4 linked regions of the Homo sapiens genome follow. The protein of the gene in region 4 interacts with the protein of the main gene of each other region in a biochemical or structural test. Each region holds a gene or a part of one and is shown on either strand. Other genes may lie near its edges.

The links. Proteins that work in one complex are often made in the same cells at the same time.
Region 1: the proteins of DLG1 (region 4) and GUCY1A2 interact in a test that uses a peptide from one of them, tested with the Homo sapiens proteins (2 studies listed by IntAct, with this or other methods).
Region 2: the proteins of DLG1 (region 4) and RAPGEF2 interact in a test that uses a peptide from one of them, tested with the Homo sapiens proteins (one large-scale study listed by IntAct).
Region 3: the proteins of DLG1 (region 4) and CYSLTR2 interact in a test that uses a peptide from one of them, tested with the Homo sapiens proteins (2 studies listed by IntAct, with this or other methods).

Annotation. Positions count from the first base shown.
Region 1 is NC_000011.10:106,941,977-106,945,970, reverse strand, and holds part of GUCY1A2 (guanylate cyclase soluble subunit alpha-2), read left to right. Parts: intron 1-3,994. UniProt on the Homo sapiens protein: Has guanylyl cyclase on binding to the beta-1 subunit. Isoform 2 acts as a negative regulator of guanylyl cyclase activity as it forms non-functional heterodimers with the beta subunits.
Region 2 is NC_000004.12:159,354,085-159,358,078, forward strand, and holds part of RAPGEF2 (rap guanine nucleotide exchange factor 2), read left to right. Parts: intron 1-1,768; coding exon 1,769-2,074; intron 2,075-3,994. UniProt on the Homo sapiens protein: Functions as a guanine nucleotide exchange factor (GEF), which activates Rap and Ras family of small GTPases by exchanging bound GDP for free GTP in a cAMP-dependent manner.
Region 3 is NC_000013.11:48,705,435-48,708,827, forward strand, and holds part of CYSLTR2 (cysteinyl leukotriene receptor 2), read left to right. Parts: intron 1-1,382; 5' UTR 1,383-1,383; coding exon 1,384-2,424; 3' UTR 2,425-3,393. UniProt on the Homo sapiens protein: Receptor for cysteinyl leukotrienes. The response is mediated via a G-protein that activates a phosphatidylinositol-calcium second messenger system.
Region 4 is NC_000003.12:197,063,625-197,068,112, reverse strand, and holds part of DLG1 (disks large homolog 1), read left to right. Parts: intron 1-1,358; coding exon 1,359-1,409; intron 1,410-2,303; coding exon 2,304-2,405; intron 2,406-2,648; coding exon of another isoform or gene 2,649-2,662; exon of another isoform or gene 2,663-2,664; coding exon 2,665-2,837; intron 2,838-4,488. UniProt on the Homo sapiens protein: Essential multidomain scaffolding protein required for normal development. Recruits channels, receptors and signaling molecules to discrete plasma membrane domains in polarized cells.

The DNA.
Region 1 (3,994 bases), on a different chromosome or scaffold from region 4:
TTTTTTGAGATGGGTTTCGCTCTTGTTGCCCAGGCTGGAGTGCAGTGGTGTGATCTCAGCTCACTGCAACCTCCGCCTCCCAGGTTCAAGCGATTCTCCTGCCTCAGCTTTCCCAAGTAGCTGGGATTATAGGCATGCGCCACCATGCCCAGATAATTTTGTATTTTTAGTAGAGACAGGGTTTCTCCATGTTGGTCAGGCTGGTCTCGAACTCCTGACCTCAGGTGATCTGCCCGCCTCGGCCTCCCAAAGTGCTGGGATTACAGGCGTAAGCCACCGCACCCGGCCTGTATCAGTAATTTAAAATTAATGTTCATACTACAACTGTCCAGGTAATAGGTCATTATCCATAATACATGTCTAATATGTATAAATGTGTGGACATTTGTATGTATGTACACATTTGTATATGATGTATATGTACACATACATCAGAAAGCATGTGTCTATGTGTGTGTTGTAGGGTTCATTGCTCACTAATGTGTCTACTTTTCCTTCTTCTCTTAACCAGACTCCTCTACTTCTTCATTCTGAGTGATTTCTTGATCGATTAATGTGTTTTTTTGTTTTGTTTTTTTTGTTTTTGTTTTTTTTCATTTTCTAAGGTGTTTCACTGAGTGATGGAATCTCTGAATCTTTGCCAGATACTCTTCTGGGTGATAAACTTTTAGGTTTCAGTTCTCTCAGTATCTCACCTGTATTTTTCTCTCATCATCTAGCTTTCATTGTTGCAGATGAAAAGTAAATTTTTTTTAATTACCTGTTTTCTCTTGCAACTTAAAAGATCTTCTTTATCTCTCTCTCTCTTTTTTTTTTTTCAGGAATCCAACCAGATATTCTTAGGGGTGTGTGTGTGTGTCTGTGTTTCTTATCATTCCTGGTTGCAATTTATGCTTTTTCCATCTGTAGATGTAGGATTTTCCATGGTTCAGGGGAAATTCTCTCTGTAATTCATTTAGTTATAGTCCTTCTTCCATTGGTTTCTTTTTTCTCATTCTACATTATAGTGTTTTTAGAGGTTGTTCCTCTAAATATGTTTATGGAAAATAGAAGGATCACAGAAAAAATACTACAAGGGACTATCTGCTATTTTATAAGAAAGACACGGACATGTGCTTTGTGATTTGAAAGGAAGGAGTAACACTGATAGTTTTGTAGTGTATGTTTATGATACTGCACTTGTTAGATGTGGTTACTAGGTGAAAAAATTCGTTTCAGAGTACTCACATGGGGGTTGGCTTCATCTTCATTATACCACATTTCTCATTGTTAAAATTTATTTCTGATGTATGTTTTAAAACATAAATTCACAGATTAAAAAATTTTATTTTAAATTCAGGGGTACATGTGCAGGTTTGTTATATAGGTAACCTTGTGTCATGGGGGTTTGGTGTTCAGATTATTTCGCCACTCAGATATTAAACCTGGTACCGTTCAGTTATTTTTTGTGATCTTCTTTCTCCTCCCAAAGATGGCTCCCCAGTGAATGCTTCCTGACATTTACACTCTTCTACAGTAATTTTCAGTACAAGGTCTCACTCTGTCACTCAGGCTGGAGTACAGTGGTGCAGTCACAGCTCACTGCAGCCTAGACTTGCTTGGGCTCAGGTGATTCTCCCACCTCAGCCTCCAGAGTAGCTGGGACTGCGGGCCTGCACCACTATGCCTGGCTCTTTTTTTGTATTTTTAGTAAAGACAGGGTTTAGGCATGTTGCCCAGGCTGGGACCACCTGCTTTTTTTTTTTTTTTTTTTTTGGAGACAGGGTCTCACTCTGTTGCCCAGGCTGGAGTGCAGTGGTATGATCACGGGTCACTGCTACCTCAACATCCTGGGCTCCAGTGATTCTCCCACCTCAGCCTCCCGAGTAGCTGGGACTACGGACTACAGGCATGTACCACCATGCCCTGCTAATTTTTGTACTTTTTTCTAGATATGGGGTTTCACCATGTTGGGCAGGCTGGGTCTTGAACTTCTGGACTCAAGCAATCAGCCTGCTTTGGCCTCCCAAAGTGCTAGGTTTACAGGCATGACCCACTGTGCCCAGCCTAACCTGTTTTTTTATTTAAGTCTCCCTTCAAACATTGTCTCTCTGAGGAGAGGCAGATACTGTTTTTCTTCTACTTCCGTGGGTACTCCTGTGTACCCCTGTTGTAGCCCAACCATAATGTAATTTACTGTTTTGTAGGGGCCCATGAGAGAAAGTCATGTGTCTTTTTGTTTTCATATCCTTAGATGTGGCACAAGTGCAACCTTAAAAGGTTAGTAATATTCACCAAACAAATACTTAGATGAATGCTTAATTTCTATGAAACAATGCTTATTCTCCAGGTGTCAGGCATTATGCCAGTGATAGATACGCAGACATAAATAGGGCAAGGTCCTTGTCCTCAAGAAATGCCATCTGAGGTGGGGTGGGATAGCAGATGAGAGACAACAGGGCCAGATCATGAAGGAACAGATCGTATTTCATTTACAGCTAAAGGATGCCAGCATTTATGCTATTCACCTTTTTAAAGAGGTGAATTAACAGTAGTTAAAAATTCTAACTTAACTTACCCATTAATAAGAGCAGCTTTGTTATAAATTTTGCCACTTGAGGAAATGTATTCTTATAGACCCAGATGTCAAGCTGTCATAGAATCTTGTGATGTGAGGAGATTAGCATTGTCTATATGTTTCAAATGATTTACTGTAAGTAGGGGGTTTGCGTCAATCGTAGGCGGAACTTTGGGAGTCAGAATTGCATCAGTTGTCTGAATTGAATTACTTTGTCTGTGCTTTCTGAATTTTGAGATTAAAGTTTAAAATCAAAGTCTTGGCTATTGACTTGTATATTTGTAAAAGTTGAAGTAATCTTTTCTTAGTTTTAATATTTTCAAATCTAATAACTTTTTTCTTTTCTGATCTTGTGCAGTTTAACAGTTCTGGGAATAAAAATCTTTATTAGTTAATTGAATATTATGGGTTTATATAGAATTGCCATTCATAATATTTTAATGTAATATTCAAAAAAATTCATTTTTTTTTAGTAATACAACCGTCACTTTAGCATCTGGTATTCCTTAGCATCATCATTTGAAAATTAACAATATTGTACCTTAAAGTACAGAGGTCCTTTATAAAGCAGCAGGCTTTCTAGTTGATAGATTGCTGCGCATAGAGTAGTTTTTAGTTTGTTGCCTATGGTGAACTTCTTATTTTCTGGATGATTCTTTGGGATCCTGGCATTAGGCACAGAACATAAGCTTACACTGTATTGTCTTTACATTTGTGTGCACCATAACTGTGAGGACCTTTTCAATGTTATGAAAAATGCAAGTTAGAAGAACTTCTCTTTTTCTCTTCAATGCACATGGACCTGAAGTCTTTTGAAAATACAGTTCTTCAAAGTTTAGAAGCAATCCATGGAATATTTTCAGTGACACACGGAATATTGTAGTTCAGCATATATGGTCAGTTTATAGGAATTTTTATTTATTCTGTATTTAGTTTTTAATAAGAATTTCATAACTGGAAGATTTCATAGCAACAAAGGACTGTCATTGAATGTGTATATAAATTTAACTTGTATCTTAGAGTTTTCTAGTTATAACATAGTGATGGTGATGTAAGGATTTGGCATAGAAAGAAGTTTTAGTGAAGGAAGTGAGAATTAATGTTCATGCAGAGTAATCAAACCAGGAGAGTATGGTTTGATAAGCCAAAAGAGATGAGAGTTTTAGGAGGAAGGGATGATTAATAGTGTCAAATTAAAGGAAAAACAGCAAACAAGGTTAAGTAAGATAAGGACAAAACAGTATGTATTGATTTAAGTATTTATGAAAGCAGTTTCAACAGAGCAGTTGGAACAGGAGACTAATGGCAGTGAATATTGTCTGTCTTTGTTTTCTCTTCTACACTAGAGAACTGGACAGATAAGTACTATTATTGTCTATTCTGGCTGACATTATTGTTAGTGAATGCAACACATGTTGAAGAGCAGTCTTGTAACCT
Region 2 (3,994 bases), on a different chromosome or scaffold from region 4:
CATGTCTTTAATGTAACTTATTACAATAGTAAAATTATGTGTTTGTTGGTTCTTTTCCTCATTTTCTCCATTGCTATGTAGGACTTCCAAATTAGTGGTGTGTTAAGGTCTTTGAAATCAATAGTGGTTAAGAGCCCAGGTTTTGTGGTCAGGTACCTACAGATCTGTTCCTATATAACAAAACATTCAATAAATCTTAGCTATCAGGATGAGTAGATTGTCATTGTGAATATTATCTAGTCTAATTTTTTTCTCTTAACCTGAAAATCAGGATGGATTCCTATTATTCATAGAGGAGAAATTTTTCTTTAATTGAAACTCTTTTATATCTTTGATTCTTCTATTTTGTTCTCTTGATTGTATTTAGAACTATACGCTTTGTATACTTAAAAGTCTTCCATTGATTTTTATTCTGCACGCACATTGTTGATAAGCAATTCTTTGTGCACGCTGTAGAAGGAGGGAGAGGTGCTAATAGTGTAATGACTAAGAGCACGGGTTTAGGAGTCAGGCGGACTGGGGATTGAATCCCTGTTTTGCCACTTTATTAGTTTTGTGACATTGGGTAAAATACAAAACAGTGCCTGTTTCCTCATCTGTAAAATGAGCTTCATAATTTCTACTTAATGGAGTTAGTGTGAGGATTCAAGGAAATTTATGCAAAGTATTTAGAACAGTGCCCAGATAGTAGATTCACTAAGTACATGAAAGCTATTGCTGCTGCTGTTCCTGTTAGAAGAGGCTCTCATGCGCCCTCAGTCCTGTTGAGATGTGTTTTCTATGGCACAATTAACATCTATATAGACGAAGTGTAGGAACAGATGATAGGTTGTAGAGTGAGAAATTCTGGAGTATAATCATTACGGACATTACTTTTATTAGTAGGAAAATTGTAGTTATTTAGCCATGTAAATAGTCATGGGTAGATTTCAAGTTTAATATCCTTTTACAATGAATAAGGAGAAAACAGTTAATAAATATTCTTAGGTTGGACTTTTTCAAGTGCTTACAACTAATACTCAGAATTTTTATTGCAAAGGAAGGAAGAATGATTTTTAGTTCCTAACAATTGAGTTTTAAAAGTTCAAGAAAATGAAACTTTAGTTTTACTGGCCTATACAGGTTTCATATTCTAGGTCATGAGCATCAATAAAGGGATTTTAAGAAAAATAGACACCTTATAGTAATAGTTTTAGAATTTTTAAATTGGTATCCTTTGTGCGACTTTTCCAAATTTATTTTAATTCACTGTTTCTGTAAGTGAAGTCTTGAGACCCGAGAGTGATGTAGAATTGCTTCTCTGCCTGGTAAAGATAAATGCCCAGAAAGAGGGCAGATCCGGCAGGCAGAGAGGAAAAAGGGAACTTGTACCAAGCACAAACAGGTTCTAGGCATAGTGCTGTGTACTTAGGTTCTTCCTGTGCTTCAGTCTTTCCAATAAATCCAGGGGTTAGGTTTTAATCTTACTATTTTATAGTTACAGACCATTTTAAATGGACAAGCAGCCCATTTAAAGATAAAAGTACTTAGATGGACTAGCAGCTTCTCTCACCAATTATTTCACCACACAAAGATAACATCATTGTGAAATTTGGTTTAGTTAACATGCATTCCCTGGCCTGCCTCACACCGCACCTCTAACCGATACCATGCAAATGCACATCTGCTGCTACACTGTGGATGCTGTTTTAGTAATTATTTTTATATTTTTAATAAACTTTTGTGGCATGAACTAGTTTTTAATGCTGGTGCATTGTTTCTACTCTAGCACGAAAGGAGGGCAGGTATCGAGAGCCCCCGCCCACCCCTCCCGGCTACATTGGAATTCCCATTACTGACTTTCCAGAAGGGCACTCCCATCCAGCCAGGAAACCGCCGGACTACAACGTGGCCCTTCAGAGATCGCGGATGGTCGCACGATCCTCCGACACAGCTGGGCCTTCATCCGTACAGCAGCCACATGGGCATCCCACCAGCAGCAGGCCTGTGAACAAACCTCAGTGGCATAAACCGAACGAGTCTGACCCGCGCCTCGCCCCCTATCAGTCCCAAGGGTTTTCCACCGAGGAGGATGGTATATGCACATAAATATTCCTAAAACCTCCAAGTTAGATGTGTTCACTTGTGCTGCTTCCCAAGGCATTTCTGTTCTCTTAACACTGCAGTCAGCTATGTCTAACCATATACTACACAAAGTACACTACATTCAGAGTTCCAAATTTAGGGTTACAGCTGTTGACTGCTTTCTTTTGTGTGTGTGTGTGTGTTTCCTTAAATGGCTTTAAAAATGCCAAAGATTATGGAGGGAGTCACTTAAAATACAGTGTGTATATAACTGGTTTTCTTCTCCAATTCTCACTAAAATTTGATTGCTTTCTGTGTGTCTGTGTATGTGTGTTTCCCTAAATGGCTTAAAAAATCCCAAAGATTATGGAGGGAGTCACTTAAAATACAGTGTTTATATGACTTGATTTCTTTTCTAATTCTCGTTAAAATTGAAGTACTTCTGTGACCCTATTTTAAGAAAAAGAATAGGCCAGGTGCGATGGCTTACACCTGTAATCCCAGCACTTTGGGAGGCTGAGGAGGGCAGATTACTTGAGCTCAGGAGTTTGAGACCAGCCTGGCCAAAGTAGTGAAACCCTGTCTCTACTAAAAATACAAAAATTAGCCGGGTATGGTGGCAGGCACCTGTAATCCCAGCTGCTCGGGAGGCTGAGGCAGGAGAACCACTTGAGCCCGGAAGGCAGAGGTTGCAGTGAGCCAACAACATGTCACTGCACTCCAGCCTGGGTGACAGAGTGAGACTCTGTCTCAAAAAAAGGAAAAGAAAATGAAAATTTCACAAGTTTGTGCTGTTGTCAAGAATTTTAGAAGCATGTAGGATTCTCAAAGGTGGATGGTTAAAGTTTTCTGTGGAAACATTATATTTGCGCTTTTAATGAATTGGGACTCATTTGGAAATGAAAGTCTGATAAAGAAAGATACATTATCAGCCAGCCTGATGGCTCATGCCTGTAATCCCAGCACTTTGGGAGGCTGAGGTGGGAGGATTGCTTGAGGCCAGGAGTTCGAGACAAGCCTGGGCAACATAGTGAGACCTGTCTCCATAAAAATATTTTTCAAATGACCCAGGCGTGGTGGCGTGTGCCAATAGTCCTAGCTACTATGGAGGCTGAAGTGGAAGGATCACTTGAGCCCAGGAGTTCAGGGCTGTGGTGACCCATGATTGTGCCACTGCACCGTAGCCTAGGTAGCAGAGCAAGACCCGGTCTCTAAAAGAAAGAGAGAGAGAAGGGGAGGGAGAAAGGGAAGGAAGGAAGGAACCCACATTCTTTATAACTCTTTGTGCGTTCTTTCTACAAATCTATCTGACCATGCTGAATTGAGAATGAGGAAGGAGAACATGGCCTCCCATCTTCTTTAAAGTTTTCAGTTTAACATGTTTGATTACACAATCATAGAAAAAAGCAACACGTGACTGGGAGATTGGGAGGCCGAGGCAGGAGAATCGCTTGAGCCCGGGAGGCGGAGGTTGCAGTGAGCCGAGAACACTGCACTGTGGATGGCAAACCCACACCCTGTCTCAAAAAAGTTAAATTAAATTAAATAAATAGAAAAACATTACAAATGAAAATTACTTAAAATCCTGTCACTTGCAGATAGCCACTATTAAAATGTTGTTATATATTCTAGACTTTTTATGTGTATCTGATCGTATATTTTTTTTAAATGGCACATGCTATTTTACAACTTTTTAAAATGAATTTAACAACTTTCTGAACAAAAATATATAATGCATATCTTTTTAATATTGTGTGTATATATGTAAAGATATGTATTGCATACATTTTAACCTTTTTGTTGTTCGTCATTGTTTAGGAAAAAAAGACAAGGATTCTAAGTGAGCTATACTAAAAAGAATAACTATGATAGTTTTATTTAGCACATCAGTGAATATATTCTCTATAGCACAAGAAATTACTTGCTTGCT
Region 3 (3,393 bases), on a different chromosome or scaffold from region 4:
CTGCCATTTTATTTTTTTTCTGTTTTTATTATCTGTTTTCTTTTTCCTGCCTTGTTGTTGGTTATCTGAACACTTTTTAGAATTCCATTTTTATTTATCTGTAATGTTTTTGAGTGTATCCCTTTGTATATCATTTTAGTGGAAGCTCTAGGTATTTCTCTCTATATATATAATATATATGTATATAAAGATATACATATATATATATCTTATGATAGTCTATTAGCATCATCATTCTACCAGTTCAAGTGAAGTATAGAAAACTTCTTATTTCCTCTTATGTCTCTTTGCCTTCCCTCATTTATAATATAACTATCTCAATAATTCCTCTACATCCATTTAAAACCACATCAGGCAGCATTAATGTTTTTGTTTCAAAACATTAAATGTAACTTAGACTCTAAAAGGGAAGGACAGCCTATTGTATTTACACATATTTTGGCTTACCATGTTCTTTCTTATTTTCTAATATTCTAAGTTTCCTTCTTTTATAAATTCCTTTCTGTTTAGAGAACTTCCTTTAGTCATTCTTTGTTTGTTTGTTTTTTGTTTTGTTTTGTTGTTGTTTTTTTTTTTTTTGAGATGGAGTTTCGCTCTTGTTGCCCCAGCTGGAGTGCAATGGCATGATCTCGGCTCATTGCAACTTCTGCCTCCCAGGTTCAGGCAATTCTCCTGCCTCAGCCTCCCGGGTAGCAGAGGTGACAGGTGCCTGCCACTGGGCCCGCTAATTTTTGTATTTTTAGTAGAGACGGAGTTTCACCATGTTGGCCAGACTGGTCTTGAACTCCTGACCTCAGGTGATCTGCCAGCCTCAGCTTCCCAAACTGCTGGGATTACGGGCGTGAGCCACCAAACCCAGCCTAGTCATTCTTTTAAGATAGGTCTGCTGGCAGCAAAGTCTTAGTTTTCCGTCTGAAAAAGTCTTGATTTTTCTCTTTGTACTTGAAGGATATTTTTGCTGGACATAGAATACTAGTTTGGCAGGTCTTTTCTTTCAGCATTTGAGAAATGTGCCATTTCTTTCTGTCCTCCATAGTTTCTGATGAGAAATCTGCTATTCAGTAGTTTTAGGCTGCAATATCATAGTAAGGTATTCATGTCAACAGGGTCAGTAGGTCACAAGTTCTCTAAGTTTGAAGCGTCAGCTTCAACCAAACAAATTAATGGCTATTCTACATTCAAAAATCAGGAAATTTAAATTTATTATGAAATGTAATGCAGCATGTAGTAAAGACTTAACCAGTGTTTTAAAACTCAACTTTCAAAGAAAAGATAGTATTGCTCCCTGTTTCATTAAAACCTAGAGAGATGTAATCAGTAAGCAAGAAGGAAAAAGGGAAATTCACAAAGTAACTTTTTGTGTCTGTTTCTTTTTAACCCAGCATGGAGAGAAAATTTATGTCCTTGCAACCATCCATCTCCGTATCAGAAATGGAACCAAATGGCACCTTCAGCAATAACAACAGCAGGAACTGCACAATTGAAAACTTCAAGAGAGAATTTTTCCCAATTGTATATCTGATAATATTTTTCTGGGGAGTCTTGGGAAATGGGTTGTCCATATATGTTTTCCTGCAGCCTTATAAGAAGTCCACATCTGTGAACGTTTTCATGCTAAATCTGGCCATTTCAGATCTCCTGTTCATAAGCACGCTTCCCTTCAGGGCTGACTATTATCTTAGAGGCTCCAATTGGATATTTGGAGACCTGGCCTGCAGGATTATGTCTTATTCCTTGTATGTCAACATGTACAGCAGTATTTATTTCCTGACCGTGCTGAGTGTTGTGCGTTTCCTGGCAATGGTTCACCCCTTTCGGCTTCTGCATGTCACCAGCATCAGGAGTGCCTGGATCCTCTGTGGGATCATATGGATCCTTATCATGGCTTCCTCAATAATGCTCCTGGACAGTGGCTCTGAGCAGAACGGCAGTGTCACATCATGCTTAGAGCTGAATCTCTATAAAATTGCTAAGCTGCAGACCATGAACTATATTGCCTTGGTGGTGGGCTGCCTGCTGCCATTTTTCACACTCAGCATCTGTTATCTGCTGATCATTCGGGTTCTGTTAAAAGTGGAGGTCCCAGAATCGGGGCTGCGGGTTTCTCACAGGAAGGCACTGACCACCATCATCATCACCTTGATCATCTTCTTCTTGTGTTTCCTGCCCTATCACACACTGAGGACCGTCCACTTGACGACATGGAAAGTGGGTTTATGCAAAGACAGACTGCATAAAGCTTTGGTTATCACACTGGCCTTGGCAGCAGCCAATGCCTGCTTCAATCCTCTGCTCTATTACTTTGCTGGGGAGAATTTTAAGGACAGACTAAAGTCTGCACTCAGAAAAGGCCATCCACAGAAGGCAAAGACAAAGTGTGTTTTCCCTGTTAGTGTGTGGTTGAGAAAGGAAACAAGAGTATAAGGAGCTCTTAGATGAGACCTGTTCTTGTATCCTTGTGTCCATCTTCATTCACTCATAGTCTCCAAATGACTTTGTATTTACATCACTCCCAACAAATGTTGATTCTTAATATTTAGTTGACCATTACTTTTGTTAATAAGACCTACTTCAAAAATTTTATTCAGTGTATTTTCAGTTGTTGAGTCTTAATGAGGGATACAGGAGGAAAAATCCCTACTAGAGTCCTGTGGGCTGAAATATCAGACTGGGAAAAAATGCAAAGCACATTGGATCCTACTTTTCTTCAGATATTGAACCAGATCTCTGGCCCATCAGGCTTTCTAAATTCTTCAAAAGAGCCACAACTTCCCCAGCTTCTCCAGCTCCCCTGTCCTCTTCAATCCCTTGAGATATAGCCAACTAACGACGCTACTGGAAGCCCCAGAGCAGAAAAGAAGCACATCCTAAGATTCAGGGAAAGACTAACTGTGAAAAGGAAGGCTGTCCTATAACAAAGCAGCATCAAGTCCCAAGTAAGGACAGTGAGAGAAAAGGGGGAGAAGGATTGGAGCAAAAGAGAACTGGCAATAAGTAGGGGAAGGAAGAATTTCATTTTGCATTGGGAGAGAGGTTCTAACACACTGAAGGCAACCCTATTTCTACTGTTTCTCTCTTGCCAGGGTATTAGGAAGGACAGGAAAAGTAGGAGGAGGATCTGGGGCATTGCCCTAGGAAATGAAAGAATTGTGTATAGAATGGAAGGGGGATCATCAAGGACATGTATCTCAAATTTTCTTTGAGATGCAGGTTAGTTGACCTTGCTGCAGTTCTCCTTCCCATTAATTCATTGGGATGGAAGCCAAAAATAAAAGAGGTGCCTCTGAGGATTAGGGTTGAGCACTCAAGGGAAAGATGGAGTAGAGGGCAAATAGCAAAAGTTGTTGCACTCCTGAAATTCTATTAACATTTCCGCAGAAGATGAGTAGGGAG
Region 4 (4,488 bases):
CTAAAACAGAAAAGAATGTTTATGCCAATGTATGGATTTAAAAGACCTACAGCTACATACATATAATATAAACCAATTGCAAAATTCATGGTAAAATTGTTATAGGATCTTGATAATTAAAGAGAAAGTCTTCAAATACATTATCCAATATTGATTGCTTTCATTGAACCACTTGGGTTAACACAGTCTTTTCTAATTTTAGGCGTGGGGGTGAGGGGGGATGTGTGTGTGTTAGTTTAAAACTCCTAGAGTTTTTGGCCGGGCGCGGCGGCTCACGCCTGTAATCCCAGCACTTTGGGAGGCCGAGGCGGGCAGATCACCTGAGGTCAGGAGTTCGAGACCAGCCTGACCAACGTGGAGAAACCCTATCTTTACTAAAAATACAAAATTAGCTGGGCATGATGGCACATGCCTGTAATCCCAGCTACTTGGGAGGCTGAGGCAGGAGAACCGCTTGAACCCGGGAGTTGGAGGCTGCAGTGAGCTGAGATCATGCCATTGCACTCCAGACTAGGCAACAAGAGCGAAACTCCGTCTCAAAAAAAAAAAAAAAAAAAAAAACTCTCAGAGTTTTTAACTATTTATTTCTTTTCACTGGATTCAGATATTCAGATATAATTTGTAGACTCTTTTATTTAGAGTATTTCCTAAGCTCCGAACCTTTAATTTAACCTTTAGAAGCTTTAACTTCTTGTGTTTTTAAGGTCAAAGCAAATATATTTATCTCCTTTACTATCACTGTTGTTTATTTTCTTGGAAGGATTTAGTTTTATCTAAAGCTCTTTTTGACTCACATTAAATTTATTATTTTTTTACAAAGTTGAGTTAGTGAATTTTTCATCAGTGAAATAGTAACAGTAGTTTTACCTTTGCATTTATAATTTTTAATTTTAAGATGTAATTATTTTAAAAATAAAATATACTGTATTCAGTATTGTAGTTGGTGGAACAAAAAAAGTAGCATGTTTTTAATAGTAACAAATTACCTAATACGTAGATAGATGATAGACAGATCTGCTCATTAAAGCATTAATCTTTAACAGATTTAATAATTCTTAGATTCTAAATAAAGGAGTAGCACATAGCATCACAAATGAAGATTTTTAGATTTGATTATCTATAAAATATAATATTGATTATATAGCCCATTTGTATTTTGTTTTACATTTAGCAAACTCACTTTTAAGACTTTATAATTTGACACTTTTTTTTAACTAAATCTTGCCATAAAGTACCTCTTTCCATATCTTTGCCATTTTCTCAGGAAAGTTCTAGTAATGTATATGTTGTTTATGAAGAATTAGATTAGCATCAATTATCTTTACACATTTTTCATCTGTGCCTTCACTTTCTAATAGGTGGTCAAGAAGAATACGTCTTATCTTATGAACCAGTGAATCAACAAGAAGGTTTGTGAAGCCTATTGATGTTTTATAACCTTCTAGAAGAATATACTTTTTAATTTGGGGGAAAAAAATTCTCATACCCCAAAAAATGTTGTATTAAAATTTTTTTTTACTACATATACATGTAGAAATTTACTACATGTGTTTTATGAAACATAGTTTACTCCACAGAATATTAGAATCTAGTCATTTCATACTGACTTTTATATTTGTGTTTTATTTCCCAAGCAACTTTGTTCCAGTGTTCTTGTTAGCATCACTATCTTCCAAATAACCCTTTTTTGAAAATCTTGGAAGTATCTTTGAGCCTTCTCTGTTCCTCCTCCTCCTCCTCATCCAGTTAGGTTCCAGGCACTGTTTATCCCACTTCTTTCTTATTTATGACCTTCTTTTCATCCCTTCTATCACAATGTTAGTTCTCAGTCTCACTACCAATCTCCATTATTCCAGCATGATCCCAGACCACCCAGAGTTTACACTTCTGTTAGATCATCTTTCTAGAATGCTACTACTGGGATTATATCACTTCCTACATCCAGTTTCTGTTCTGCCCTTCTTTGCTCTGCTTCCTTACAATTTCTACTTCAAAGCCATCTGTAAAACACTAGACTTTATTCTGTCATTTGCAATGTAAAGAAACATTATCTGCGAAAACACCAAATTTAACTTGATTGAATTATCAATATGACTTCTAGCAGAAGACTAAGTAAAGTTTAAGATCTGAGTCAAGATTATAAAAGAGCAAGTTACGCATCTTTGGTTGATGGTAGAGTGAGATGGAGAGGGAAGAAAAAAATTAGTCATAACAGTTAAGGATATTTTTGTTCGCTGGTGAAATAAAATACATTGATATTTGTTGAATGTTTATTCCTTTTAACATGCAGTTTATCTTTATAGTTAATTATACTCGACCAGTGATCATATTGGGACCTATGAAAGACAGGATAAATGATGACTTGATCTCAGAATTTCCTGACAAATTTGGATCCTGTGTTCCTCGTAAGTAAACCAAACAAAAACATTTAATTGTTACTCTTAACATTTCCTGTCACTGTGTGTGGGAAAAATAGATATAACCATTTTTTAATGGTTTGTACTTATTTTATCAGTTACTCTTCCATCCTCCATATTATTGTCCTTTCTCAGATTTAAATTAATCTGTTCTGTTGAACTTTACAAAACGATGTAAGTAGAAAATGGATTTATTGTGGTTTTTTTTTTAATATTAAACACTTTCCCAAGTTTTTTTCTGTTAAAGATACAACTAGACCAAAACGAGATTATGAGGTAGATGGAAGAGATTATCATTTTGTGACTTCAAGAGAGCAGATGGAAAAAGATATCCAGGAACATAAATTCATTGAAGCTGGCCAGTATAACAATCATCTATATGGAACAAGTGTTCAGTCTGTACGAGAAGTAGCAGAAAAGGTAAGCATCAGACTAATCCCAGAATATAGCTTCTAATCAGATATGCCTTTGACAGTATGCAAGACTGGTAGGATAGATACAGCACTAATTAGTTTTGTTAATGTGATGAATTTGCTTACCTAAATAATTAATTTTCCATGGCTTAGGAAAGTGCATACAAGATAAAACAGGTAAATAAGGTAAACAAAGAAAGTGAAAATAGAAATGATAACATGAATGTAAGAGAAGTTATTTTCAGGTCATTTGCTAGAGATAGACCTTTTGTTTAGGCCTAGCTCTCCAGCATATATTAAAAGGAGATAAGGGCCGGGTGTGGCAGTGCACCCTTACAGTCCTAGCTACTGAGAAGGCTGAGTTGAGAGAATCACTGAAGCCTGGGAGTTTGAGGCTGCAGTGAGCTATGAGCATGCCACTGAACTCCAGCCTGGGCAACAGAACAAGACCCTGGCTCTTAAAAAAAGAAAAAAAAAGAAAGATCAATAAATCTAACCACTTAAAATTTTTAAAAAACTTTTTTTATGGCCAAAGACTTTTTCCAAAAACTATTGGAAAACACCATTAACAATGTCAAAAGACAACTGACAGAAAAAATTTGCAAGAAAAGGGCTAATATTCCCAATATATAAAGAACTCATAAAAACAGGGAACAGAGACCAGAAACCCAATAGAAAAAAACAGTGGACAAAAGATCAGAATATATAGTTCACACAAAAATAAGATATAAAATGGCCTTTGTACATAGGAAATGACGTTCAACTGTAGTCATTATTAAAGAAATGTAAAGGCCGGGTGCGGTGGCTCACGCCTGTAATCCCAGCGCTTTGGGAGGCCAAGGCAGGCGGATCACCTGAGGTTAGGAGTTCAAGACCAGCCTGGCCAACATGGTGAAACCCCGTCTCTACTAAACATACAAAAATTAGCCAGGCTTGGCAGTGCATGCCTTAATCCCAGCTTCTCAGGAGGCTGAGGCAGGAGAATTGCTTGTACCTGGGAGGTGGAGGTTGCAGTGAGCCGAGGTCGTGCCGTTGCACTCCAACCTGGGTGACAAGAGTGAAACTCTGCCTCAAAAAAAAAAAAAAATAAGGCCAGGCACAGTGGAAGGCTGAGGTGGGTAGATCACCTGAGGTCAGGAGTTCAAGACCAGCCTGGCCAACATGGCAAAACCCCATCTCTACCAAAAATACAAAAATTAACTTGGCGTGGTGGTGCATGCCTGTAATCCTGGCTAAGGAGGCTGAGGCAGGAGAATCGCTTGAACCCAGGAGATTGCAGTGAGCCAAAACCATGCCACTGCACTCCAGCCTGAGCAACAGAGCAAGACTCCATCTCAAAAAAAAAAAAAAAAAATGTAAATTAAGAAGACTACTCTAAATTCAATTTCTCCCCTATCAGATTCAGGGAGAAATATGAAGACATTTTCTTGGTGAGACTGAGAGAAAACAGTTGTGCATTGCTGGTGGAAATGCAAACTGGTACTGCCTTTTGGAAGGGTATTTGGCAATATCTAGCAGCTTTCCTTCAACCCAGCATCCCACTTCTAGGAATTTATTCCAAAGATATACCCCAACAGTATGAAAATACATGGGCAAAAGGGTATTTATTCATTGTAGCATTGTTTATAATTGTGAAATACTGAAAATCATCTAAATGC